Linked DNA regions of Homo sapiens. The protein of the gene in region 7 interacts with the protein of the main gene of each other region in a biochemical or structural test. Each region holds a gene or a part of one and is shown on either strand. Other genes may lie near its edges. The genes, in order: LCK, LNX2, PARD3, MPP7, SNTA1, CARD11 and PTPRZ1.

Region 1 (3,500 bases), on a different chromosome or scaffold from region 7:
AAAAAAAAAAAAAAAAAAAAAAAATTAGCCAAGCATGATGGCGTGATGGCATTTGCCTGTAGTCCTAGCTACCCAGGAGGCTGAAGTGGGAGGATCACTGAGCCCAGGAAGTCAAGGCTGCAGTGAGCCGTGATTATACCACTGCACACCAGTCTGGGCGACAGGGGACCCTGTCTCAAAAAAAGAAAAAATTAATTAAATTAAATTAAAAAAAATTTTTAAGTTAACATTTTTTCTCCTCCAACTATAGACCTATTGATTTATTGAACATTTTGTCCAAAATGTGTGCCAGCTTCGTGGCTGAGTTTCTTGGGCCAATGCTTTACATCAAGAACAGGCAGGTGGTCGGATGCAATGGCTCACGCCAGTAATCTCAACATTTTGGAAGGCCAAAGTGGAAGGATCACTCGAGGCCAGGAGTTCAAGACCAACCTGGGCAACATGGTGAGAACTCATCTCTACAAAAAATACAAAAATTAACCAGGTGTGGTGGTGCACGCCTGTAGTCCTAGCTACTCAGGAGGTTAAGGTAGGAGGATCGCTGAGCCCAGGAGGTTGAGGTTGCAGTGAGCCAATATCATACCACTGTACTCTAGCCTGGGGGAAAGAGCAAGAACCTCTCTCAAACAAAACAAAACAAACAAAGCAACACAAAAAACAGCAGACAAGACTATACTTCCTTTAGGGATCATTTCTTTAGTTCAGTTTCTCTGAACATGTAGAGCACAAAAAGTAAAAAAGAAAAAAGAACAAGCAGACTATTCTACTGCAGACCATTGTTGTACTCTGGACCACCTCATGGCAAAATCTGTCAGAAATCATTTAGAATAGCCAGGGCTGGAGGCTCACGCCTGTAATCCTAGGGCCGAGATGGGAAAATCACTTGAGCTCAGAAGTTCAAGACCAGCCTGGGCAACATAGTGAGACTTTGTCTCTGTAAAAATAAAAATAAAAGGCCAGGCGCAGTGGTTCACACCTGTAACCCCAACACTTTGGGAGGCTGAGGTGGGTGGATCATGAGGTCAAGAGATCGAGACCATTCTGGCCAACATGGCGAAACCTCATCTCTACTAAAAATACAAAAAATTAGCTGAACGTGGTGGTGCACACCTGTAGTCCCAGCTACTCGGAAGGCTGAGGCAGGAGAATTGCTTAAACCCGGGACTGCACTCCAGCGTGGCGACAGAGCAAGACTCTGTCTCAAAAATAAAATAAAATAAAATAAAAATAAAAATAAAATTAAAAAAAAATGAATCATTTAAAACATTTTCTTCGCCTTTGCCCCGACCCAGACTTGATTAATGACAAAGCTGCCCATGTTCAATAAAGAGCCTTAGCTATTCATGCCCACATAGAACCCTCATGACAATATCAAGCAATATCAAGAATCAGGGCTAGCAGGCATGGCAAATAATTTCTTTCTTTATTTTATTTTATTTTGAGACAGGGTCTTGCCCTCTTGCTCTCTTGCTCTCTTGTGCCACTGGAGTGCAGTGGCAAAATCACAGCTCACTGAAGCCTCGACCTCCCGGGCTCAAGCAATCCTCCCACCTCAGCCTCCTGAGTAACTGGGACAACAGGCATGTGCCACCACGCCTGGCTATTATTATTATCATTATTATTATTATTATTATTTTTATTTTTTTAGATGAAGTCTCACTCTATCGCCCAGGCTGGAGTGCAGTGGTGCAATCTCGGCTCACTGCAACCTCTGCCTCCCAGGTTCAAGCAATTATCCTACCTCAGCCTCCCGAGGAGCTGGGACTACAGGCGTGTGCCACCACACCTGGCTAATGTTTGTATTTTTAGTAGAGATGGGGTTTCACCATGTTGGCCAGGGTAGTCTAGAACTCTTGGCCTCAAGTGATCTGCCTGCATTGGCCTCCCAAAGTGTGGGATTACAGGTGTGGCATGAGCCACCGCACCCAGCCTCCAGCTATTTTTTTTTTCTTTTTCTTTTTCTTTTTTTTTTTTTACCTGAGAAGCTGTGAATGAGAGGGCCCGGGTAATTTTTGTATTTTTTTAATTTTTGTAGAGACAGGGTTTTGCCATGTTGCTCAGGCTAGTCTCAAACTCCTGAGCTTAAGCAATCCACTGCCTCAGCCCCTTAAAGTGCTGGGATTACAGGCATGGGCTACCGTGCCCCGTCAGTAATTAATTTCTAGTGGGTAAATCAGGGATGTGTCCTGGGCTACCTCCTTTTTCATATTTGTTTAAATACATAATACTTTTTTTTTTTTTGAGATGGTATCTCACTCTGTGGCCCAGACTGGAGTGCAGTGACACAATCATGGCTCACTGCAGCCTCGACCTCCCATAGCTCAGGTGATCCTCCTACCTCAGCCTCCTGAGTAGCTGGCACTATGGGTGGGCAACACCACGCCTGGATAATTTTTGTATTTTTAGTAGGGACAGGGTCTCACCACGTCACACAGGCTGGGTTTTTTTTTTTTTTTTTTTTGAGACGGAGTCTCGCACTGTTGCCCAGGCTGGAGTGCAGTGACGTGATCTCAGCTCACTGCAACCTCCACCTCCCAGGTTCAAGCGATTCTCCTGCCTCAGCCTCCCGAGTAGCTGGGATTACAGGCACCCGCCACCATGCCTAGCTAATTTTTTGTATTTTTAGTAGAGACGTGTTTTTTAGTAGAAACTAATTTTAGTTTCACTATGTTGGTCAGGCTGGTCTCGAACTTCTGATGTTGTGATCCACCTGCCTCCGCCTCCCAAAGTGCTGGGATTACAGGTGTGAGCCACTGCGCCCAGCCTGGTTTTTTTTTTTTTTTTTAAAGAGATGGAGTCTCACATCTCACTCTGTCACCCAGGCTGGAGTAGTACAGCACATGATTGTAGCTCACTGCAACCTGAAACTTCTGGCCTCAAGTAATCCTCCCACCTCAGCCTCCCGAATAGCTGGGATTACAGGCAGGAGCCACTGCACCTGGCTTTAATTCCGCTCTCTCTCTTTTTTTTTTTTTTCCTTTAGAGATGGGATCTCACTCTGTTGCCCAGGCTGGAGTGCGGTGGCATGATCATGGCTCACTGCAGCCTCAACCACCTGGGCTCAAGTGATCCTCCCACCTCAGCCTCCTGAGTAGCTGGGACCACAGGTACACACCACCAAGCCCAGTTAATTTTTTTATTTTTTGTAGAGACGGGGTCTGCCTATGTTCCCCAGGCTGGTCTTGAGCTCCTGGGCTCAAGCAGTCCCCTTGCTTTGGCCTCCCAAAATGCTGTGATTATAGGTGCAAGCCACCACACCTGGCTTAATACCTTTTTTGAATGAACTCTGTAGCCTCTCGACACAGAGAGAACAAAAAAAAAAGCATTATTTTGGATGCAAACAAAATGGATTTATTTTCACAAATTGGGAGTGTCTTGAACATAGAACTGATTCTGCTAGTCAAGTATCGCTATAAATAAGGGATATAGAGCAATTATTCTAATTGGTATTTTAGTAGAAGTCCCCCAACCAGTAACGTGAATATACCTGATAATCCCTT
Region 2 (3,500 bases), on a different chromosome or scaffold from region 7:
TCATTAAACTAGATGTAAGATTGCCATTATTGGAGTTATTAGTATACAGGTTTCCATAAACAGTAATAATGCAGTGGAATTTCTACAATGTAGACTTTATAACTGAATTAATTCCCAAAAATATGGTTGATAATTTCAGATAATTACAATCTTTTGAGGTCTAAAGATTCAGTAGTGTTAATGAACCATTCTCTAAAATAGAAACAAGCCCACTGATGAAATGTATTAGTAAAAAAACTTAAACAAATCTGTTATATTCAAAGAAATATAAATAAAAACATTTGTAACAATACTGGGCTAGTAGCAAAAAATAAGTGTACACTTACATTTCAGCTAAAAAGCCCAGAAGTGGGAGAGTCAAAGAACACTCAGTGGGCTGCAGAAAAGGACTATCTGCCCTTCCTGGTCCTGACCACCAAAGTGTCAAGATGTCTGGGAGGATGAACCTGGGAAATGAGCTGTAAGAGTCGCTCTCTGCAAAATCAAGTCAGGAGCTAGGATGTAAATAATACAAGGGGTCCTACAAGTTGTGCCAGCCTGTGCAGCTAAAGTACTAATATCATAAAATGCAGCTAGGATAACTAAATAGCTAGCTATGACAGGATCAGAAATCTGATTTTATATGAGCTGGATTAGTTATGTTCCTGTATTCGTCTATTACATCTAAGTATTTGGTAAAAAAAACACTGTTTGAAAGCTCAGTCTGTCTCAGCCATGCCTAGGGGTAATGAAGGAAAGGTTTTAGGCTTGGTGTTAATTATTTTCAGGAATAATACACCATGAAAAGCAGCATACAAGCGGGAGTGGAAATCAAACCCAAGAATCCCTAGTAGGGTCAATCCTGGCTGCCTTTGTAGACTCCCATAGCCCCAAGTCTAGAGATTTCTTTTCAACAACTAAAAATCCTAACCAAGTTTTTCTTTTAATAAAGGAGATGGCTATTCCCAACAGCATCTTATATTCAAATTCACTCTTTTATTGACTCAGCAAATATTTTCTGAGCACTTACTACAAGCTATGAGAAATCTGTATCATAATCTGTACCATTAGGGTGGTTGCAATTACCTTAGATCATGCCTACATACGTAAAATGTTCAAACAATTCTCTGTAACTCATCACGTGCCAAGTGATGAAGAGAAAAGTGATGAATGCCAATAATAACTAATGTAGGAGGAATCAGTATGGGGGAGAATGGCTGAACAAAAGCTTTAAGGATGAAGGTGAACAAACTGGCTCATGAGATGAGGACAGGCTGCAATGTGGGAATAAGGTGTTTGCAGGGAAGGAAGAAGACTGCTATGTCTGGCTCTTCCACTAGATTGTATATTCCACGAGGACAGGTCAGTATTTTGCTCTGAAATGTACCACCAGCAACTAGTATAGTGCCTAGAATGTTGTGAGAAATGAATGAGCTGGTGTGCCTGAAATGAAGAATTGAGATTAACAAGACAGGTTGTAGAAGAGACCGTGGAGGACCCTGACTATTAGATTAATCAGTCTGGACTTGACCTCCTAGTTGAACCTTTGCAAGGCAAGCAGGGTTACTGATGTATTAACCTGGCAGTGATTGTTTCAGATTTAAGGGAGGAGAGTTGGGAGGCAGAAGTATATGATGGGGTATTCTACTAAATTAGATATGAAGAAGAGAAGTCCTAGACTCAAGAAGTGGCAGGAAAATGGAAGTAGGGGGTAGATATCAACAGGTCATGGTGAAGGACCGAACCACAAATCCAAGGAGAGAGAGGAGTCCCTGCGCTTGGGTTGACAGGAGACATTTTTTCTTGTTCATGAATATTTCCTCTCTCTCCTAGAAGTTATCCGTTTTTAAGCTTCAATTATTATCACCTTTGTATGATGAAAATGGTCCAGGCCGGTATTAACATCAACTCCGGGATTGTAGAACTCTTACCATCCTCCTCCCCTCATCTCAACTTGCCCTCTAATAAAATATCTTGTCCCATGCTAGTTATTTCTGGAGAATACCTGTTTCTTCTTAAAGATCATCTTCTGAAAGGGAAAACAGTAAGGGGAGCGAAGGGGATTATTGAAAATGCAGAGTTAGAGTGTTTGCTGAGGAGAGTGCATTAGGGAGTTGATAGGAGATGACTGCAAGATTTCTGAACTCTATCTTATAATCTGTGGTATAAATTATGAGTGCTGCATGGTTCCTTCTTTTCTAGATTTTAGTAGTCTGTATAGAAAAGGATAAATCCAACAATGAAGGTAATGAATGGGAAAACTGGGTATAAAATAATACCAATGAGATGATAATTTCAACATGGATGAAGGTGACCCTTGAACAGTCATTCAAGAAGTCCAAGCAGGAAGAGGCTAGTCAGCCCAAGGAAGAGTCTAGCTAGCTCAGCAAGCCTGAGATCATGTGCCAAGCCACATCGCATGCAGGAATGAAAATTAAGATAGGAAGAAAAAATACTCTGTGTATATGGGAAAATACCACAAATTACACATAAATTCTGATGTTTTGCATATAGAAACAGTAAAACTAATCTATATATAATTTAGGTTCCAAAACAGCACAATTTTCTAAGGTTTAAGTGTTAAGAATGGAACAAAAAGGCACAAGTTAACAGAATAATTAAAACTGATACCTGAAGAATCTGGTCTCCAGCAAGAAGTCTCCCGTCTCTGGCAATGACCCCATCCCGATAGACCTCCTGGATGACAATGTTAATCAAAGGTGTTTCGTTGCCACCCACAATGCTGATTCCTAACTGAATGTAAGGATTGGACCGATGAATTTCAATCGTGGTGATTTCTCCTTCTGGTAAACTAAGTGGCTGTTGTGTGGCTGCCAAGTTAAAAATGAGACAGACAAAAACAGATGTTAAAAAAATAAACAAACCCAACAATTTATATTCTGATTATCTTCAGGTAAGTATGTCACATTAATACATGATTAACAGCTAAGCAGTATCACTGGATAAGAAACAAAATGACAAAATATCTGTTGTTAAGATTATCTAAAAATTTTCTCTACTAAAACTGATCAGTAAATAATAAATAGCTACTATGTATCAGATCACTAGGGACGACACAGTGATCTGATTAAGAAATATGAAAAGAAAGTCATTCTGTCCTCATTGATGAGAGAAAATTTGGACCACGAAACAACTGTACATAATGAGAGGCAGTACAAAGGAAACACTAGCTCTGTGGCATAGAAACAGCACAGGTGTTGAGAGAGTAGCCACATCAAGCTCGTAAGAAGAGGTGGGTCTTGAACGGAGACGTAGGAAATGAAGAAGGCGCATAGTTGCGGCAAGGAAAATTCAAATTTGTAGTAGAGCTTGGAAAAAGAAAATCATTTTTAAAAGGAAATATCAAGGGCCCACTACCATGATATGCCCAAGATCCATGACTACGGGCCTTCTGTTAACTTCCTAGTGGGTAACAGAGCAGTGGCTGGTACCAGAGGTGTATAACGGTGAGATGCATGGTCTTGGAGTCAAATACAAACCCAGTCATTTACTGGTTGTAT
Region 3 (3,500 bases), on a different chromosome or scaffold from region 7:
CGGCATGTGCCTCTAGTCACAGCACTTGGAAGGCTGACATGGGGTGTTGCGGGCTACGGTGAGCTATGACTGCACCACTGCACTGTAGCCTGGGCAACAAAGAAAGGCCCTGTCTCAAAAAAAAAAAAAAAAAAAAAAAAAAAAAGAAAGAAAAAGAAAAGAGAGGAAAAGAAAAGAAAAAAAAGAAAGGGAAGTAATGCAATAATACAAGAAAACAAAAGACAAGAGTCAATGGCCTGGCTTCTCAGCAACCTACTATAAACTCCTGGCAGCCTCAAACAAATTGGTCCCTCCCCACATCAAATACTGAGATTGACGTGCACTACCTCTAAAGTCCTCCTTGAGGGCTGGACTTATACAGCAAATGGGGCAGTCAAAATGGTCAAATCCTTACTATTGTTCTGCATTTGATATTAATGTCCTGAAGCCATTTTCTTTCACAATCAAAAATTTTACTACAGTAACTGCTATCTTCTTCTCATAGACATAGTCTTATTCTCTGCACTTTTACATTTTAATTTCTACAGAGCAAAATAAACCTGAGACATATAAGAAATACAATTTGAAATATGTTAAAAGGTAAGTAACTTTAAAAAATCTATCAGTTCTTTCACAAAATAATTAGATAAGACTCAGGGTGCTTTGGGTTAGTAGGTTGACTTTTAAAATAAATTCCATTTCTACCCTTGTGTGTTGCTGCTAAGAAAAGAAATTCCACAAAACAAAAACAGGATAGGTCGTACCTTTCTTAAGCTGGATATTAAGCCTCTTGCCTATTTTTTTGGTGTTATAACCACTGCTTACAGTCGTACTAAATACATTCTGAGGTGCCGAGGCTGGAGCGGATGGTGGTTTTCCCGAGGGGTGTGCGCTATGAGGTAGTCTTGAGTGAGAGTCTATCTGCTCAGGCGGGTGGTTCAGTCGGGGTGCTCTCTGCACCGTGTGAAGCCCTGCACTGTTCACACTCCTGTTGTCAATATACTGGCTGTCAGGGCTAAAACGGCTTGAATAGTAATTGTTCTTCTCACTTTGGGATAGTTGTTCATACTGCTCTTTATTTGCTGCAGGAACCACATGGAACCAAATGATGGGTGTACGCATGGCTTGGCGAAACATATGTTGTGCTCTGGGTTTGAGAAAGAATAGAAAATTAGCAAATTAAGACTGGCAGACTAGAAGATATTATGAGCTTAATTAAGTTTACTAATTAAGCAATAAGAACTGACAGGCTGTTGAAATTGAAAAGCAAAATTCTAATAACCCATTTATCAATCAAGTTTGCAGCTCTGATCTATCAATAGCTGTTTCTTCAAATATAAATTTCTCATTCTCTCAATAAAAATAGAAAAATTATCTACAACTACAGATAAAATTCTGTCCTCTCAACTGTAAATCATTAAACATGTTTTAAGTATAACAAGTATTATAATTTCAATAATAGAAACCAAATGGAACATTCTCTCTACAACATTGTCTAATACAACTTGTAGACATTACAAAATACTTCAATTTAAGTTTTCAAAGAAAGACAGAGCTTTATAATTATATTTAGAATATTGGATTGGGTTAGATGTGTATTTAAAATTTTTAAAATACACACACACACACACACACACTTAGAAGACTATAGAAAGTAACTATTAATTATTTATTAAGTTGGTATATGTAAAAATCTCAAGAACAGCAATCCAGGCTCAATAATTCAAAATGTTGACAGCTGTGGGTCACAGTGCACCCATACAACCAGCCTGGGAAGCAGCTCTTTCTCATGCTGGTTCCCTGGTCAGGACCTCAAGTTCTTAAGAGTTCTGTTTGCTCCTGCCTTGTTTTATAAGAACTGGCCAACTGTTATGTTTTTCATTGACTAAGGGCCTGAATCAAGATAAAGTGTATCTGAATACAACCCAATATTGTATCTGAATACAACCCAAGATAAAGTGTATCTGAATACAACCTCAAGCAGATACAAACAGCTTTATCTGCTTGTTTGTATCTAGAGAAACTGTGTGCAGCAAAGGTGGACGGGTGAGTTAAAGTATGATAAAAATGGGCACACTGTCAATTTTCCAAAAGGAGAGGAACCAGCAAAATTGTAAAGTTGAAATGGGGGCCATAATACTTAAGAAGAGCTATATCCATCAGAGGACATTTTGAAATATAGTCTAATGGTATTAATTACTGAGTATGTTTAAATTTTTAAAAGCTAATGGCAGAAAATATTCCTCTCCAGTATACAGACTGAGATCACAGACATGTTTGAAGCATTTCAACTGACTGCACTCTGTCATGCCTAATGCAAGTAAGAACAGAAGTGCAGCGAGCACACACTTACTGTTCAAATCTTCTATTTCGAAGGTCGCCATCATTAATCCTGACAATGCAATCATTCTCACGAAAAAGATTTTCATGTTCAGCTTTACCACCTTTCTCCAATCGTTTTACTAATAACCCCAGGGTTCTGGAACATTAAGAATGCAAATGATTACACATGTAATATCTCCACCATGCACACTGCCTTACCACTTTAATGCTGTTATTATATTTACAAAGATGTCCTTACAAAGGAGCATGTTAAAATGACTATTCATACATTTTTAAATGACAGACAAAAACCACAACGTTAAAATGACATGTAAAAATGCATCCCTTCCATAAATGTAAAAAATCAGTTTCTGGCTGGTCAGTATTATGTTTCTAGAACAAGCTATAACACTCTCTCTGTTTACAAATGCCCCAAACAGAGCCCGCCTAATGGTTGAGTGGGTATTGCAGTGTGGAGGATGGATAAGCATGTATTTTTGAATGGCTTGGGCAATTTTCTGTTTTAAGCCAGCTGGCACGCTAGCTTAAAAGACGACTGCAACTCCCATCTTTCTGTGAAAGTAAAGGTAATGAGGAAAAGCTAACCTCATTGCACTGCAGGTTTGAGAATGATAATAGGAAAGATTTCAGGAATAAAGGAGTTTCCATGCTTTGCATTTGAATTTGATAGTGCTTAGTATTGTGAATTTCAAAACCTGTCAGGTCTCCCAAAAGTAAGTCATTTATTGTCAATATTCCCATTTGGAAAAACAAATGACCCAACAGAAAAACGTCAGTGAGAGGTTCAAATAATGCCAATCACCATTCATCTCTTCCACATATGTACTCACTCAGGTTGAAAGAAAAGTGTGAATGACCTTTGAGAGACCCCCTACTTGCTCTAGAACACTAACTTCATAACTGACAGGACATTCTATACAGACTGGGACAAATAAGAAATACTTCTTTAAATCACAGTATAAGCAACAGGGGTCTTAACCTAGCTCTGATTGCTGTTATTTTTATTTTTTTAGTCTTATTTTATTCTTTTTTGAGATGGAGTTTCGTTCTTGTCGTCCAGGCTGTAGTGCAATAGCATGATCTTGGTTCATTGCAACCTCCACCACCTGGGTTCAAGCGATTCTCCTGCCTCAGCCTCCTGAGTAGCTGGGATCACAGGCATGCGCCACCATGCCCAG
Region 4 (3,500 bases), on a different chromosome or scaffold from region 7:
GATCATAACAAAATTAAAGATTCCGTTTAATGAAAGATTTCAAAGAAAAAATCTGACAGGTGAAAAACAAAAGATGCGTATACCATTTAAAATCCAACGAGAGACTGAAAAAAGAAGAAAACTGCTATAAATTAGGGCAGAAAAATGGGAAACAGATATGAAAAGCTAACAGAAAAAGAGGCAAAGGATATATAAATGGCGAACTCAACCGAGGAAAAACACACACAGTATACGATAGGATATTCCACTGCATTAGTAATCAGATAGCTGCAAATAAGAACAATAACATATCACTTTGTGCTGGATTGCTCCATCTGTTGCATCAGATTGGAAAAAATTATAAGGTCAGAAAATGCCACATGCCAGCAAGAATGCAGGGAGCAACAGCTGGTGAAAGTGTCAATGAGATAACAATCTGGTCGTACTTAAGGGAATTATGCATATGCCAGAGAGAGGGTCCCCTGGGGGCAAGGAAGAACATGAATGGGGATAGGTGATGAAGGGGAAAGATACAATAAAATAAGGTGGGAGACTCTACACGGACCAATCATGACAGTGTGCCATGAAGTGAGTGCTAACTCCAGTCCGAGCCCCTGAGCTGGGGAGGGAGCGGAGCGGGGCAGCTCCGCGTCACAGGTCCCTTCACCCAACCAGCAGGTATTCAGTCTCTACATACCAGGAACTGCATCCCATCCTAGCGACCGAGTAGCAAAAGATCAAGCCCTTACCCTCATAGGGTTTATGTCCTAGTGAAGGAAACAATAAAAAGGAAACAAATAAGATAATGATAAGAGAGTGTTAACAGCTAACAAGTAAGACAGTGATAGTGACAGAAAGTGATGGAAAGAGGGTTTCACTAATGAAAGGATAGCCAGAGGTGAGATCCCGCAGGTCTGCAGAAAGAAAATGAACCAGGCATTCAGCAAGCCGAGAGATGAGATCCCAAAGAATTGCGTTCAAGGGCTGGGCGTGGTGGCTCACGCCTGTAATACCAGCACTTTGGGAGGCCGAGGCGGGCGGATCATGAGATCAGGAGATCCAGACAATCCTGGCTAACACAGTGAAACCCTGTCTCTACTAAAAATACAAAAAAATTAGCCGGGTGCCTGTAGTCCAGTTTAAATATGTTTTAAACTGGAGGCTGAGGCAGGAGAATGGCGTGAAGCCGGGAGGTGGAACCTGCAGTGAGCTGAGATCACACCACTGCACTCCAGCCTGGGGGACAGAGCAAGACTCCGTCTCGAGAAGAACTGCGTTCAAGGTCATCAAATACAAAGTTGTCATAGTACAGGCGACAGTGTGTTCTAAAGATGACTTTCAGGTACTTCCTGTCATTCAGCTCCCAGAAGCAACCTTCAAAATACCTGTTATATAAAATGTAAACTATAAGGGTTATTGTGAGAGTCCAACATACGGTGATTAAAGAATGCAAACTTTTTGAAGGGGAAGAGGGAGGAGGCAGCATCGATATGAATGTGCTATGCCTCTAAAAAATGTTTCTGGAAAATTACTAGGATCCACAAACTTTTCCTTCACTCCTTAAAAAGTAATTGAGTAATCATATTTTTTCCCCAGCACAGTGCCAGGAAATGAGGTTAAGTATTAAATTTTCTGTCTTTGCTTCAATTGTATAAGATGCAGGATCCTATTTATTTTATATACGTACTGTTTTTATGGATAAAAGAAAACATTTATTGCATGCTTGCAATCTGCAAGGCCCTGTTCCCTGAGCTTCTACACATTGGAGCCCACTTACATTCACAACAAAATACTATATTATTTCCACTTTAGAGACGGAACAACAGAGGTTAAGAAACTTGCCTAAAGTCAAAGTACTAGAAAGCAGCAGAGCAGAGATTCAAACCCAGGTCTTTCAAAGTGTTAACCACTACACTTACGTTTCCCCCTAGAGTGGCTGGCCCCTGCAGTGGCTGTAGCACATGGCCTTAGAACTTATTAGAAATGCAAATCGCCAGGACCTCCCCTCCCAGACCGACTGATCAGAAATTCTGGGGCTGGAAGGCAGCTGCCTAAGGTTTCACAAGCCCTCCGTGTGATCCCAAGGTATGCTAAAGTTTGAGAACCACTGGTAGAAATTTTTCATACTAAGCATAATGTGAAAGGTGAAATTACTACCATTTTGAAACTTCTAAAATATAAAATTTGTATCCTATTTAAAATGACTATGAAGAAACGAAAACAGTGTTAGTTCATTTCCTCACTGCTCAACTTCTTTCTCCCAAACTTGACAAAATGCCTAATCTCTATCCTGATTATACTATGTACAAAAAGGGTACTCTGATGAGCGTTAGAGCACAGAGGTCTGAACTCACTCTTCAGAAGTAATCAGAAGCCATAATAGGAAGAGAAAAAAACAATATTTTGAATATCAGCAGAAGCTTGATAAATCTTGGGCCATAACTCCAAATTTTGATCCCAGGCTCAACTCCAAATTTTTACAACATGACTTCAACAGTCTTCCCAATGCCAAAAAAAGAAGTTACAACCCCGAGAAATATTTGATTAACAAGATTCAAACTGCTTTAAGTGCACATACAGAGAAACTGTCCAAGAGTGTGTTTTTATCAGGAGTGAAGCTAAGGAATGCCTAATTACACATCAGACCCTCTGACAATATTCACAGCAAAAGGGGTTAACGTTATCCCTGTCCCTGCACACACCTGCCGTGTACGGCATCCTACCTGATCCTTCTCTTTTCAAAGCTATATCTAGACCGGGAGACTTTTCTCCCCAACTCAAGTACTCAATTTGAGCAGTACAGCTCTATGTGTATTCAAGTTTGCCTATTTCTAATAAGGCCTTTTTTTGTTGTTAAAGGGATGGAAGAAAGAGTATGAGAAATAAGTATATTCAAGCACCTACCATAATCTGAAATCTTCCATAAGCCAAATAACTCTCTGAAGCTATTCACTCGCATACTCAAGTCATTAATTTTATAAATTTCAGGTTTCTACTTATTCCAAAAATTTAAAACATAAAATTGAAGATTAAGGAGTACTTAGTCCAAGCTTGGACCACAGGAGAGCTATAAACCTGTCTTAAAATGCTTAATGACCTGATTAAGGTCATCAAAGGTAAAGAAAACTCTAGGAAGCAGCCTTTTAATCTGCCTGGCTACTTACAACCACCCACCTTTTCCATGCCCACGCTCTCCTAAGGGCTGAAGGCACTGCCAAGAATGACCTTCCTAGAAGGGCTGAATCCTATTTATTTTCTCTCTCCCAAATCTCCACCAAATCCCCTAAGAACTGGCAGTGTTCTGGTAAGAAACAATTTACTATTGCTCTCCTCCCCACCCACAGTTCAGTGCAACTGAAGTGAACACACACACACCCCAACCACTGAAAGACTTTCTCACTTAGATTCCTATCCTGCATTTTCAAAGTCCAAAGTTGTCTTCAAAATATCTTGCAAAATGCAGTCGTACCAGCTAGTCTTTAATCTCCACTAACATTGCCAGTTCTATACCCAAAATGGAT
Region 5 (3,500 bases), on a different chromosome or scaffold from region 7:
TCACTGCAATCTCCACCTCCTGGGTTCAAGCAGTTCTCGTGCCTCAGCCTCCTGAGTAGCTGGAATTATAGGCACACACCGCCATGCCTGGCTAATTTTTGTATTTTTGTTTTATTTTGAGATGGAGTCTTGTTCTGTCGCCCATGCTGGAGTGCAGTGGTGTGATCTTGGCTCACTGCAACCTCCACCTCCTGGGTTCAAGCAATTCTGCTGCCTCAGCCTCCTGAGTAGCTGGGACTACAGGCATGTGCCACCAGGCCCAGCTAATTTTTTGTGTTTGTATTTATTTATTTATTTATTTATTTTTTGAGATGGAGTTTCGCTCTTATTGCCCAGGCTGGAGTGCAATGGTGCAATCTTGGCTCATTGCAACCTCAGCCTCCCGGTTCAAGCAATTCTCCTGACTCAGCCTCCCGAGTAACTGGGATTACAGGCATGCGCCCCCATGCCCGGCTAATGTTTGTACTTTTAGAAGAGATGGGGTTTTGCCATGTTGGCCAGGCTGGTCTTGAACCCCTAACCTCAGGTGATCTGCCCATCTTGGCCTCCCAAAGTGCTGGGATTACAGGCGTGAGCCACCACGCCCAGCCATATTTTTTTATTTGTTTATTTTTTTATTATGTATTTATTTACTTTTTTGAGCAGAGTTTCACTTTTGTTGCCCAGGCTAGAGAGCAATGGCGTGATCTCAGCTCACTGCAACCTCCGCCTCCTGGGTCCAAGTGATTCTCCTGCCTCAGCCTCCCGAGTAGCTGGGATTACAGGCATCCGCTACCACGCCCAGTTAATTTTTTGTATTTTTGGTAGGGACAGGGTTTCACTATGTTGGCCAGGCTGGTCTCGAACTCCTGACCTTAGGTGATCCACCTGGCAGCCTTGGCCTCCCAAAGTGCTGGGATTACAGGCATAAGCCACCGCACCTGGCCCTTTTTTGTGTTTTTAGTAGAGGCAGGATTTCGCTATGTTGGCCAGGCTGGTCTCAAACTACTGGTCTCAAGTGATCCGACCACCTTGGCCTCCCAAAGTGTTGGGATTACAGGTGTGAGCCACTTTGTCCGGTTATTTTCATTTTTAATTTTTGTGCGTACATAGTAGGCATATATATTTATGGGTTACATGAGAAAATCGAAAACATTTAAGAAAAAGTGATTGAAGCACTTTGTAAGTTGCACAAACACTGGTGAACACCCAAAGCACTTAATCAAAAGATCCAGGGATCAAACTATAGCATTATGAATTTTGAAAATGATTTATTTAATTAATTAATTTATTGAGACAGGGTCTCCTTCTGCCACCCAAGCTGGAGTGCAGTGGCACAATCTCAGCTCACTGCAGCCTCGACCTCCTGGGCTCAAGTGATCCTCCTACTTCAGCTTCCCTAGTAGCTGAGACCACAGGTGCCTGGCTAATTTTTGTATTTTTAGTAGAGGCGGGGTTTTCCCATGTTGCCCAGGCTGATCCTGAACTCCTGACCTCAGGTGACCTGCCCACCTCAGCCTTCTAAGGTGCTGGGATTACAGGCATGAGCCACCGGACCTAATCAAAAATGATTTATTATTAGTGTTACTAGTGTCCCAAACTTCCAAGATTTTTCTCAGATTCCCTTTATTCTCCCATTGCCTTTTCCAGCACTGGGCTAGGCACCAAGGGAAGCCTTCAGAAATAATTGTGTCTTGATGTGACTCCCAAGTGTTGGAGTATCTGCCTAAGTCTTGTCCTCCTTCTGTACCTGTGCAGGCGGCCGGGAGAACAAGATGCCTATTCTCATTTCCAAGATCTTCAAGGGATTGGCAGCTGACCAGACAGAGGCCCTTTTTGTGGGGGATGCCATCCTGTCTGTGAATGGGGAAGACTTGTCCTCTGCTACCCATGATGAGGCGGTGCAGGTCCTCAAGAAGACAGGCAAGGAGGTGGTGCTGGAGGGTAAGCACTGACGTTCCAGGGTTCAGAGGGGCTGGGTGGAGGTGTTCCACTGCTTCTCTACCTCCCCCAGGCCTCAGAAGGCCCCATCCCAGCACTGGGGGCTGGGAGGTGGGCAGGACTGAAAACAGAAACAGAATTTGGGGACCTGCCTGAAGACAGTGTGGGGTGGTGGAGGGAGAGTTGGCATAGAGCCAAGCAGACCTGATTTGCATTTTCTGTCTTCCAGTCACTAGCTGTGTAGCCCTGGACAAGTCACTTCATTTCCCTGATCCTTAGTTTCCTCATTTGTAAAACAGGGATGTAGCTCCTGCCTTTCTGGGTTGTTGCGACTAGGGCAAAAATGTACATGGCAGAGTGTGCCAGCACCTGAGTGACACAGGGAGAGAGGGGTGCGGACTGGGGAAGGGGCAGGTCAGATTCTTTCCTGTGGGGCCTGGAGAGCTCTTGACTTCAGGTTCTTTTAGTGCCTGGGCCTTAAAACCCCAAGACCCATCCTCCTTTGGGAGAAGCCTTGGCTTTTATTTTACTTTATTTTTTTTTTGAGATGGAATCTTGCTCTGTTGTCCAGGCTGGAATACAGTGGCATGATCTTGGTTCATCGCAACCTCTGCCTCCTGGGTTCAAGTGATCCTCCTGCCTCAGCCTCCCAAGTAGCTGGGATTACAGGTGTGCGTCACCATGCCCAGCTAATTTTTATATTTTTGTAGAGACAGGGTTTTGCCATGTTGGCCAGGCTAGTCTTGAACTCCTGGCCTTAGGTGATCCACCCACCTCAGTCTCCCAAAGTGCTGAGATTACAGGCATGAGCCACCACGCCCAGAGGCCTTGGCTTTTATAGAGTAGGACATCAAATCCTTCCAGCCAGGATCAGAGAGGAGTTTTGTGGAGGAACCTTGGTTGAATGGCTTTCTCCACTGTTCCCTCACAGTGTGGTCTTGGGTGGGACCCTTGCCCTCTGTGGGCCTCGGTTTCCCCATCAGTTGTTACACGCCTCCTGCTGAGGTTGTCCCATGACCATCTTGTGCCATGTCTCTCAAGAGGTTTCTGCTTTGCTCAGCCCTTTCCTCAAACTCTGTCAGCTCTGGAAGCCCCGTGGGGGCCTGAGGAATGTGTCTCTGGCTTATGGCCCAGAACAGGCACAGGGAGGTGGCGGGGGCTGATGGAGAATAACACGGCCAGAGAAGCTGCTGAGTTGAGTCCCAGGCCCAAATCCTGGTGGGTTGCCTTGGTTTCCCTAAAGGAGTGTCCAAGAGGCCACAGAAGCAAATAGGTTCTCGGTCCTTGGTTGACCCAGATATAAAATAAAATAAAATTTAAATAAAGAAAATAAAATGTAAAGTTTTATTTTATATTTTAGGTATATCTATTTAAATGCCATGGATGCATTTTTTTTTCTTGTTTTTTTTTTTTTTCGAGACAGGGTCTTGCTCTATCACCCAGGCTGGAGTACAGTAGTATGATCTTGGCTCAATGCACCCTCCACCCCCCGGGGCTCAAACAATCCTCCCACCTCAACCTCCTGAGTGGCTGGGACTACAGATGCATGCCACCACACCTGGTTAATTTTTTTTTTTTTC
Region 6 (3,500 bases), about 120 Mb from region 7:
CAGCAAGGAAGTGGCCAGGTCAAGCTTGCCTTTTTTTTTTTTGAGATGGAGTCTTGCTCTGTCACCAGGCTGGAGTGCAGTGGCGTGATCTCGGCTCACTGCAACCTCCGCCTCCTGGGCTCAAGCGATTCTCCTGCCTCAGCCTCCCGAGTAGCTGGGACTATGGGCACGCACCACCACGCCTGGCTAATTTTTTTGTATTTTTAGTAGAGACAGGGTTTCACCATGCTGGTCAGGCTGGTCTTGAACTCCTGACCTCGTGATCCACCTGCCTCGACATCCCAAAGTGCTGAGATTACAGGCGTGAACCCTCGCACCTGGCGCCCTGCATCTTCTTATTTATGTTTTTAATTTTAATTTTTTAAATTTTTAAAAATTTTCGCTCTGTTGCCCAGACTGGTCTTGAACTCCTGCCCTAAAGCGATCCTCCCACCTCAGCCTCCCAAAATGCTGAGATTACAGGCATGAGCCACTGTGCCCAGCCCTACCCTGCATCTTCTAACTTCAAAATGAGTGGCTTCCACTCATCACTAAACAGACACAAACACAACAGTAAAAGATGTGGATTATGCTGGGCGTGGGAGGGAACTTCCGGCTTCAAATATATGAAGAGCCAACCGGGCACAGTGGCAAACGGCTGTAATTCCAGCTCTTTGGGAGGCTGAGGCGGGAGGATCGCTTGAGGATAGGAGTTTAAGACCAGCCTGGGAAACAGTGAGACCTCGTCTGTACAAAAAAATTACAAAATTAGTCAGGAATTGTGGTGTGTGCCTTTAGTTCCGCTACCCAGGAGGCTGAAGTGGGAGGACTGCTTGAGCCCAGGAGTTTGAGGCTGCAGTGAGCTGTGATAGTGCCACTGCATTCCAGCCTGGGCGACAGAGTGAGACCCTGTCTCAAAAGCAAAACAAAACTAAACAAAGGACAAGGAGCCATTCATTGCACAGGGAAGCGGCGACTGGTCACAGCCCTCAGTGGGTGCCAGGGGGCACCTGGCTTCTGGTTTGGGGCCCCACAGGGAGGTGGCGACTGGTCACAGCCCTCAGTGGGTGCCAGGGGGCACCTGGCTTCAGGTGTGGGTCTCCACGGGGAGGTGGGGACTGGCCACAGCCCTCAGTGGGCACCAGGGCCCACCTGGCTTCAGGCGTGGGGTCCTGCCCGTCCCGCCCCACCTGGTCCAGGTTGTTGCTGTCCTTGGAGAGGCGCCGCAGCTTGCTCTCCAGGTTGACGATGCAGGCCTCCCGCCGCACCATCTCGATCCTCATCTCGTCGTTCTTCTCCTCCAGCTCGCGGATCTGCTTCCTGTACTTGTCCTTTTCGATTAAGCACTGCGAGTACTGTGTCTGAGCTTCATCTCGGGAGTGGAAGGCCTGCCAGGGAGAAGCGGGACGAAGGCTGCTTTGGGGGTTGCACCCCAGCCAAATCCAGCTGGGCCCAGGGACAGGCATCATCCCAACCCAGGGGCCAGCCACATCGTCTGTGGCTCTCGTCTGCAGTCTGACCCCTGGGCGTGTCAGTCACTACCTTCTTCATTAACGCGATCACAGAGCCGATGGTCCGACCCTTGCTAGTGGCAGGCTCTGTGTTGAGAGCTTTGATGCAGTGTCCCTGGAAGGCCACAGCCTGTCCCTATGAGGCGGTGCTACCGTAATTATCCCCATTTTACAGATGAGGGCACTGAGGTCAGGGGTGGCAGCTTGCCTATGGGCATACACCTTATGAATGACAGGGCTGGATCTGAACCCATCCTCTCACCCGAGAGAACACACAACATTTAAGAACCATGCTTGGTCGTGGGAGCTGCTGGAGCCCAGCTCGGATCCCCCTGCTACCCAAACGCCTGTGACTTCCAAAAAAGCCTTTTGGAATTCATCTTTTAGAATTCATCTTTGGAACAGAAATGGGAAAGATGGATTCAGGAGTGATCCCTGCATTGTCAGTGATGTTGCACTGGACAAAACACTCTGAAGGAGCCGGTGGTCTGGGGTGCGGGCCCCGCTGTGCAGCCTCGCCGCCCTGCACGCTGCAGGTGGTGCCTGTACCTGGTCCCGCTCCCGCTCCACCTCCTCCAGCTGCAGCATGACCGTGTTCATGCGGTGCTTGTACATTTCACAGTCCTTTCCCAGGGTCGAGCACTTGAGCTCCAGGTCCTCCTTCTCCTCCAGGTACTGTGAACCACACAGAGAAATCAATATGCGCATCGAGCAATCAATAGGTCAGGACTGAAAGCTGTTCTCTGCTCGTGCCTTCCCGCCAGCTGGCTGGAGCTGGCCTGTCCCTCCCTAAGCTGGCATGGTCAGGACATGGCCTGCCCTTCTGGGAACCGACTATCTGACTGTTGGGGCTCAAGGTAGGAGACCAATCAACCCAGCATTGTTGTGAACCCACTACAGACCAGGTAACATAGGGGAGGACAATGTGATCTCAGTCAGGAGGGGGACACAGGTGCTAAGCTGGTGCAATAGCTTGTACATGCCCAAGGGTGGCCGGCACATCTGGGATCCTGCAATCCGCAAGGTGTGGGTGAGGCTCTGAGACTCACACCTTGGCAGGTATGTGGGTTCCCCCAATCCCAAGCCCTCACCCTCCCCTCTGCCCACATTGCTCCCACCCCCAGGCCCTCATCTGGTTGATAAACTGCAGCTTCTGCCAGGGGCTGAATACTGGGAGGTACAGGGGATTTATGCCAGGGGTCTGATCTAGTCCCTGGAAAGGAGTGTGGGGTCAGGGAGGTCCTGCTGACACACACCACTGCCCCCTGGTGTGAAGGGGGCCGGCCGAGGGCACCGCTGGGCGGGCGATCCCCACTCCCACCTTGTCTCGCAGCTCCTCTGCCTGGCGGGCCTCCTCCTGCAGGTTGTAGATCCTGTTGACCAGCTCCTGCCTGTCCTCCAGGGCCTCCTTGCGGTCGTGTTCCAAGATGTCCAGGATGGCCTTGTCTGAGTCTGGCAGGCTGCGCTTCCCGGCCTGGGTGGGAGGGAGGAGGTTTCAGAGGGTCAGGGTCGGGGTGGGGAGCCAGGTGGTCCTGGAGGGCAGGGGACAGAAGAACCAGCAACAGATACGGACAGAGCAGAAGGTTTTGTGCCTGGAAGGTAGAGGCAAGAAGAGATGTATGTCCCCTGGGGTCTCTAAGAAGCTTAGCATTTAAGAAGTTTATTGCCTGGAAAGAAGCAGAAAACTGGCTTTTGCTTGGGCGTATCCTGGGCCTTTTGTTCTCCCTGGCGCTTATCGGAGCGCAGAGAAGCAGTTGCTGCACCCGAAACACTTTTTAGATGCTGCCCCTGAAATATCAAGGAATCTGTTCTGGAGAAGCTGGGTTCATCCTCGGCTCTGAAACAGAGCCTCATATACCAGGCAGCCACTCCTGGGGGGACTGTTCTGGAGGGAGCAGGAGGATGCATGTTTTTTTTCTTGCCCTGTAGATATGTTTTGGGATGTCACTCCTCAGCAACTTCCTCCTCTGTGCCCACAAGTGACTCGGCGATGACAAGTGTGGGGAGGCA
Region 7 (3,500 bases):
ATAACTTTCCAGACAAAAAATTTATCAGAATACATGAACCAAAACAAATTTTTCTTGACCCACTGAACAGGTGTATCTTATGGGAAAAACTACAGTGGCTTTCCTGTAAGGAGGCTTAACTATGAGTCATAGAGGAGAGGTAGATATTTTAAGAGCTTTTAAGGAATAATTTCTTCCAATTAATGAAGGAATTCAGGATCTTTGAATTAAGTGAATTATAGTGCTGCAAGGTACACTAAGTTCAAATGTTTAAGTATTATTATTAAATATGTAATGAATCAGATTCTGTACTTCTCAGTCACATCTTACTGCTTTAAGAGCCACATTAACAATAAATTATACCCAACTCCTCTGGAAGAATTAACTTCTTAATTTATGCTGGTTATAGAGTCTGAAATTCAATATGTTGTGACTCTCAGTTTGATCTATTTATCCTCTGAAAACAAATTGTAACCACATATAAAAAATATTCATGCCTTTTTCCCAAATAATAACTAGCCTCTATTCAGAAAATTAATTCCTTTTCATTGCAGAGTTGCAATTTTCTTTATTTCATTTCTCTCTCCTTTTTACGTATACTGTGGTTGCTTCCAGTCAGGGAAGTTTGCCAGGAGAAATCATTTCATTGATGAATTCATTTCTACTCTCATGTCTGCACTAGAGATTCAAGATCTTGCTTAAAATTTTATGTTGTGGGAATTTTGCTTCTGGCAAAAATTCAGGTTTTTCTGGAAGCATAAGCTGCGTTTTCTCATTCCCTTTAACTCCGAAAAGATTTGAGTACTGTCTAAAGTGAGAGATTTGCTTGACCACCCATTTGCTGACCGTTCAGACTGTTGCATGGAAATGGAACCCCCTCAGTCAGGACCAGAAGATCTCAAAGGAAGGCATAATTAAGAAGATGAGCCTGTGTTTCATTTTCAGTTACCATCTGCTCAAGTGTCTACTAGGTGCAGTTTCAGCACTGAGCATTTTATGTACATTTTCTCATTTCATTCTCCTCAAAACCCTTTGATATTGGTGTTTTCATCTTACACCTTTTACAAATGAGGGAACCCGGCACAGAGAACTCAGATAAGTTGCCTAACATCACAAATCCTGATTCAGCCTGTGTATTCCTTCCCAATCCAGAGCCTGAGGCTTTTCCTCTTTTCATTCCCAGGATCAATTTGCTGTTTGGCATTCACTAGCTTGCTTTCATGTGATGTGATGGTACATTTCACAGTCCCATTTGCTTTTCTGAGGATCCCTTTCATGATTTTGCCCATGTACTCTTGTATTACTTTTTTATCCTTTTTTGAAAATTAAGGCATAATTTACATTTTTACCATCTTGAAAGTTTTCACCGATGCATATGGTCATGTAGCAATCACTGTGATCCAGATACAGAATCGTTCCAGCCATGCTACTTTAACTACTCATTCACTAGATGTTCACTAAGTGCCCGACATCTGCAAGGCACCATGCTAGGCGCTGATAATTCAGCTATGCATCAACATACAGAGACTTAAACTCATGATGCTCACAACCCAGTTAATCTGATTCAATCCCACAATGAAAACTTTCTTTAAATCTTGTTTTAAAGATACTTTTTCTGTTCACAACTAGTCGAAAATAAGTCTTTTCCAAATATCTCTTAATGTGTTGAATATGTTAACTCTCAAATACTTTAAAATGCTTCCTGCTCCATTAAGAATTCCAATGGTAAAAGTCAGAGCCAATTTAAACAAGAGAGAGATATGTGTGTATATACATATATAAATGTATATATATGCATATACATAAAAGTGTATATATATATATGTGTTTGTGTATATATATATAAAATATATACATTTAAATTGTATTTCAACTTTTAGTGTCTTATTGAGATTAATTCCTAGAAGTAACTTCAGATTACAAAAGGAAACCAATTTTTCTCTGTGTTTAAAGAAATTAAAGAAATTAAAGAAAGAAAAAATATCATATAGCACAATCTTAAAACACTTGTATTTTAGAAATGTCCTGTTTAATACCATAGCCACTAGGCAGATGTAGCTATGTAATTTAAAATTTATTAAAATAAAACAATTCAGTTCCCTAATCACACCATCCACATTTCAAGTGCTCAGTAATCTGTGTGGCTAGTGGCAATCACATGGGACAGTGCAGACATGGAACATCTCCATCTGGCAGTGTTGTTTTGGAACAACAACAAAAAACGCTGGTAAAATAATGATTGATAGAACTCATGAGGAGTCATCAACTCAACTAGAAAAATTTCTAAAGTCATTGAAATTGTTTGAAGTGTTCGTGCATGTGAGTTAGTTATGGTTTGTGTTGTGTTAGCCTGCAAACATCCTAGAAACATGATGGGGCCTTTGGTAGAGCAGTAATAGGTGAAAAGAGTTCAGTGGCCACTTTGTAGCCTTTATGGACTGAGGTTGAACAGAAGAGATTAACTGCTGGTTCGGGAGTGAGTGCTCTGCTCCCATAGTACATTTTCCATAATTTGTTCTGTTATCCACTGTATTGTTTTTCAATTTATCTGTCTCCTTGACTCGACCACATTATTTGAGGGTAAAGAATCCATTCTTACATTCATCATTCATTCATTGTTAAATTCATTCATTGAAGAATTCAATGAAAAATTCAGTCAACATTGCATTCTTGAACTTAGCACTTACAGTAGGTGCCAATAAATCTTTAATGTATAAGGTTATAGAAAGATTGTACCATGAAGCTTCTTAGAAAAAAAAATAGTTGTTTGTTGTTGAGACTGGCCAATTTTCACTGGTCTTTCCCTCTTTTGATTATGATCTCAGTCCGGGAGTAAGGTCAGCATTCACCTTGACCTGTCCATCTTTAATGTCACTTCTGGTACGCGAACTTCACTTTCACTGATTCTCCCAGAAATACACGTAAGCATATAGGCATCCTCTATGAGGTTGGAGCTGTCATGAATGTGATTAATGCCTGTACAAGCATTACATAGATCCAGACACTATCTGTGCATGGAAAATAAAGTTCCTGTGATTGATACTGAGTGTGTACTTACAGAAGCAGTCTTGAGTGAGCTTTTAATTCTAGAGGAGTTGGCACCAATGAGTTTTGGATACATCCCAGGGGGCCAGAACATCAAGTCAGCTAGTGTGCCACTTTGTATGTGTACAAGTGCATGCGCCTGTGCTGCTCTGGTGTTGGGGAGGAGAGGGCAATGAGGGATGCAGGATGGTCAGTAATGAGTAAATAAAGTATCTTGAGCCCATGAACACTGTATTTTCAGTCAGCCAAAAGCTATCATATTGGTTTAAGTCTTCTCTAGTCAAGAAGGCCGTAAGAGATAGTGACACAAAACAGTTTTGAAAACCAGGCAAATGATGGGAAGTGCAGTTTTATCATGTGGATGTACGTGCTTTTGGAGTTTGTCAATAGTTTTATCATTAATCCTAGAGAGGATGTGCTACACAAGTTTAACTCTGCACATAGCAAATATTTGAACTGAGTTGAATTCAAATGGA

What was found.
Region 1: of the proteins of PTPRZ1 (region 7) and LCK, one has a biochemical effect on the other in vitro, tested with the Homo sapiens proteins (one large-scale study listed by IntAct).
Region 2: the proteins of PTPRZ1 (region 7) and LNX2 interact in a test that uses a peptide from one of them, tested with the Homo sapiens proteins (one large-scale study listed by IntAct).
Region 3: the proteins of PTPRZ1 (region 7) and PARD3 interact in a test that uses a peptide from one of them, tested with the Homo sapiens proteins (one large-scale study listed by IntAct).
Region 4: the proteins of PTPRZ1 (region 7) and MPP7 interact in a test that uses a peptide from one of them, tested with the Homo sapiens proteins (one large-scale study listed by IntAct).
Region 5: the proteins of PTPRZ1 (region 7) and SNTA1 interact in a test that uses a peptide from one of them, tested with the Homo sapiens proteins (one large-scale study listed by IntAct).
Region 6: the proteins of PTPRZ1 (region 7) and CARD11 interact in a test that uses a peptide from one of them, tested with the Homo sapiens proteins (one large-scale study listed by IntAct).

The regions. Positions count from the first base shown.
Region 1 is NC_000001.11:32,257,765-32,261,264, reverse strand, and holds part of LCK (tyrosine-protein kinase Lck), read right to left. Parts: intron 1-3,500. UniProt on the Homo sapiens protein: Non-receptor tyrosine-protein kinase that plays an essential role in the selection and maturation of developing T-cells in the thymus and in the function of mature T-cells. Plays a key role in T-cell antigen receptor (TCR)-linked signal transduction pathways.
Region 2 is NC_000013.11:27,565,030-27,568,529, forward strand, and holds part of LNX2 (ligand of Numb protein X 2), read right to left. Parts: intron 2,811-3,500; coding exon 2,611-2,810; intron 1-2,610.
Region 3 is NC_000010.11:34,381,797-34,385,296, forward strand, and holds part of PARD3 (partitioning defective 3 homolog), read right to left. Parts: intron 2,459-3,500; coding exon 2,333-2,458; intron 1,127-2,332; coding exon 744-1,126; intron 1-743. UniProt on the Homo sapiens protein: Adapter protein involved in asymmetrical cell division and cell polarization processes. Seems to play a central role in the formation of epithelial tight junctions. Targets the phosphatase PTEN to cell junctions.
Region 4 is NC_000010.11:28,293,065-28,296,564, forward strand, and holds part of MPP7 (MAGUK p55 subfamily member 7), read right to left. Parts: intron 1-3,500. UniProt on the Homo sapiens protein: Acts as an important adapter that promotes epithelial cell polarity and tight junction formation via its interaction with DLG1. Involved in the assembly of protein complexes at sites of cell-cell contact.
Region 5 is NC_000020.11:33,437,264-33,440,763, reverse strand, and holds part of SNTA1 (alpha-1-syntrophin), read left to right. Parts: intron 1-1,737; coding exon 1,738-1,923; intron 1,924-3,500. UniProt on the Homo sapiens protein: Adapter protein that binds to and probably organizes the subcellular localization of a variety of membrane proteins. May link various receptors to the actin cytoskeleton and the extracellular matrix via the dystrophin glycoprotein complex.
Region 6 is NC_000007.14:2,935,868-2,939,367, forward strand, and holds part of CARD11 (caspase recruitment domain-containing protein 11), read right to left. Parts: intron 2,965-3,500; coding exon 2,812-2,964; intron 2,166-2,811; coding exon 2,040-2,165; intron 1,368-2,039; coding exon 1,170-1,367; intron 1-1,169. UniProt on the Homo sapiens protein: Adapter protein that plays a key role in adaptive immune response by transducing the activation of NF-kappa-B downstream of T-cell receptor (TCR) and B-cell receptor (BCR) engagement.
Region 7 is NC_000007.14:121,876,161-121,879,660, forward strand, and holds part of PTPRZ1 (receptor-type tyrosine-protein phosphatase zeta isoform 1 precursor), read left to right. Parts: intron 1-3,500. UniProt on the Homo sapiens protein: Protein tyrosine phosphatase that negatively regulates oligodendrocyte precursor proliferation in the embryonic spinal cord. Required for normal differentiation of the precursor cells into mature, fully myelinating oligodendrocytes.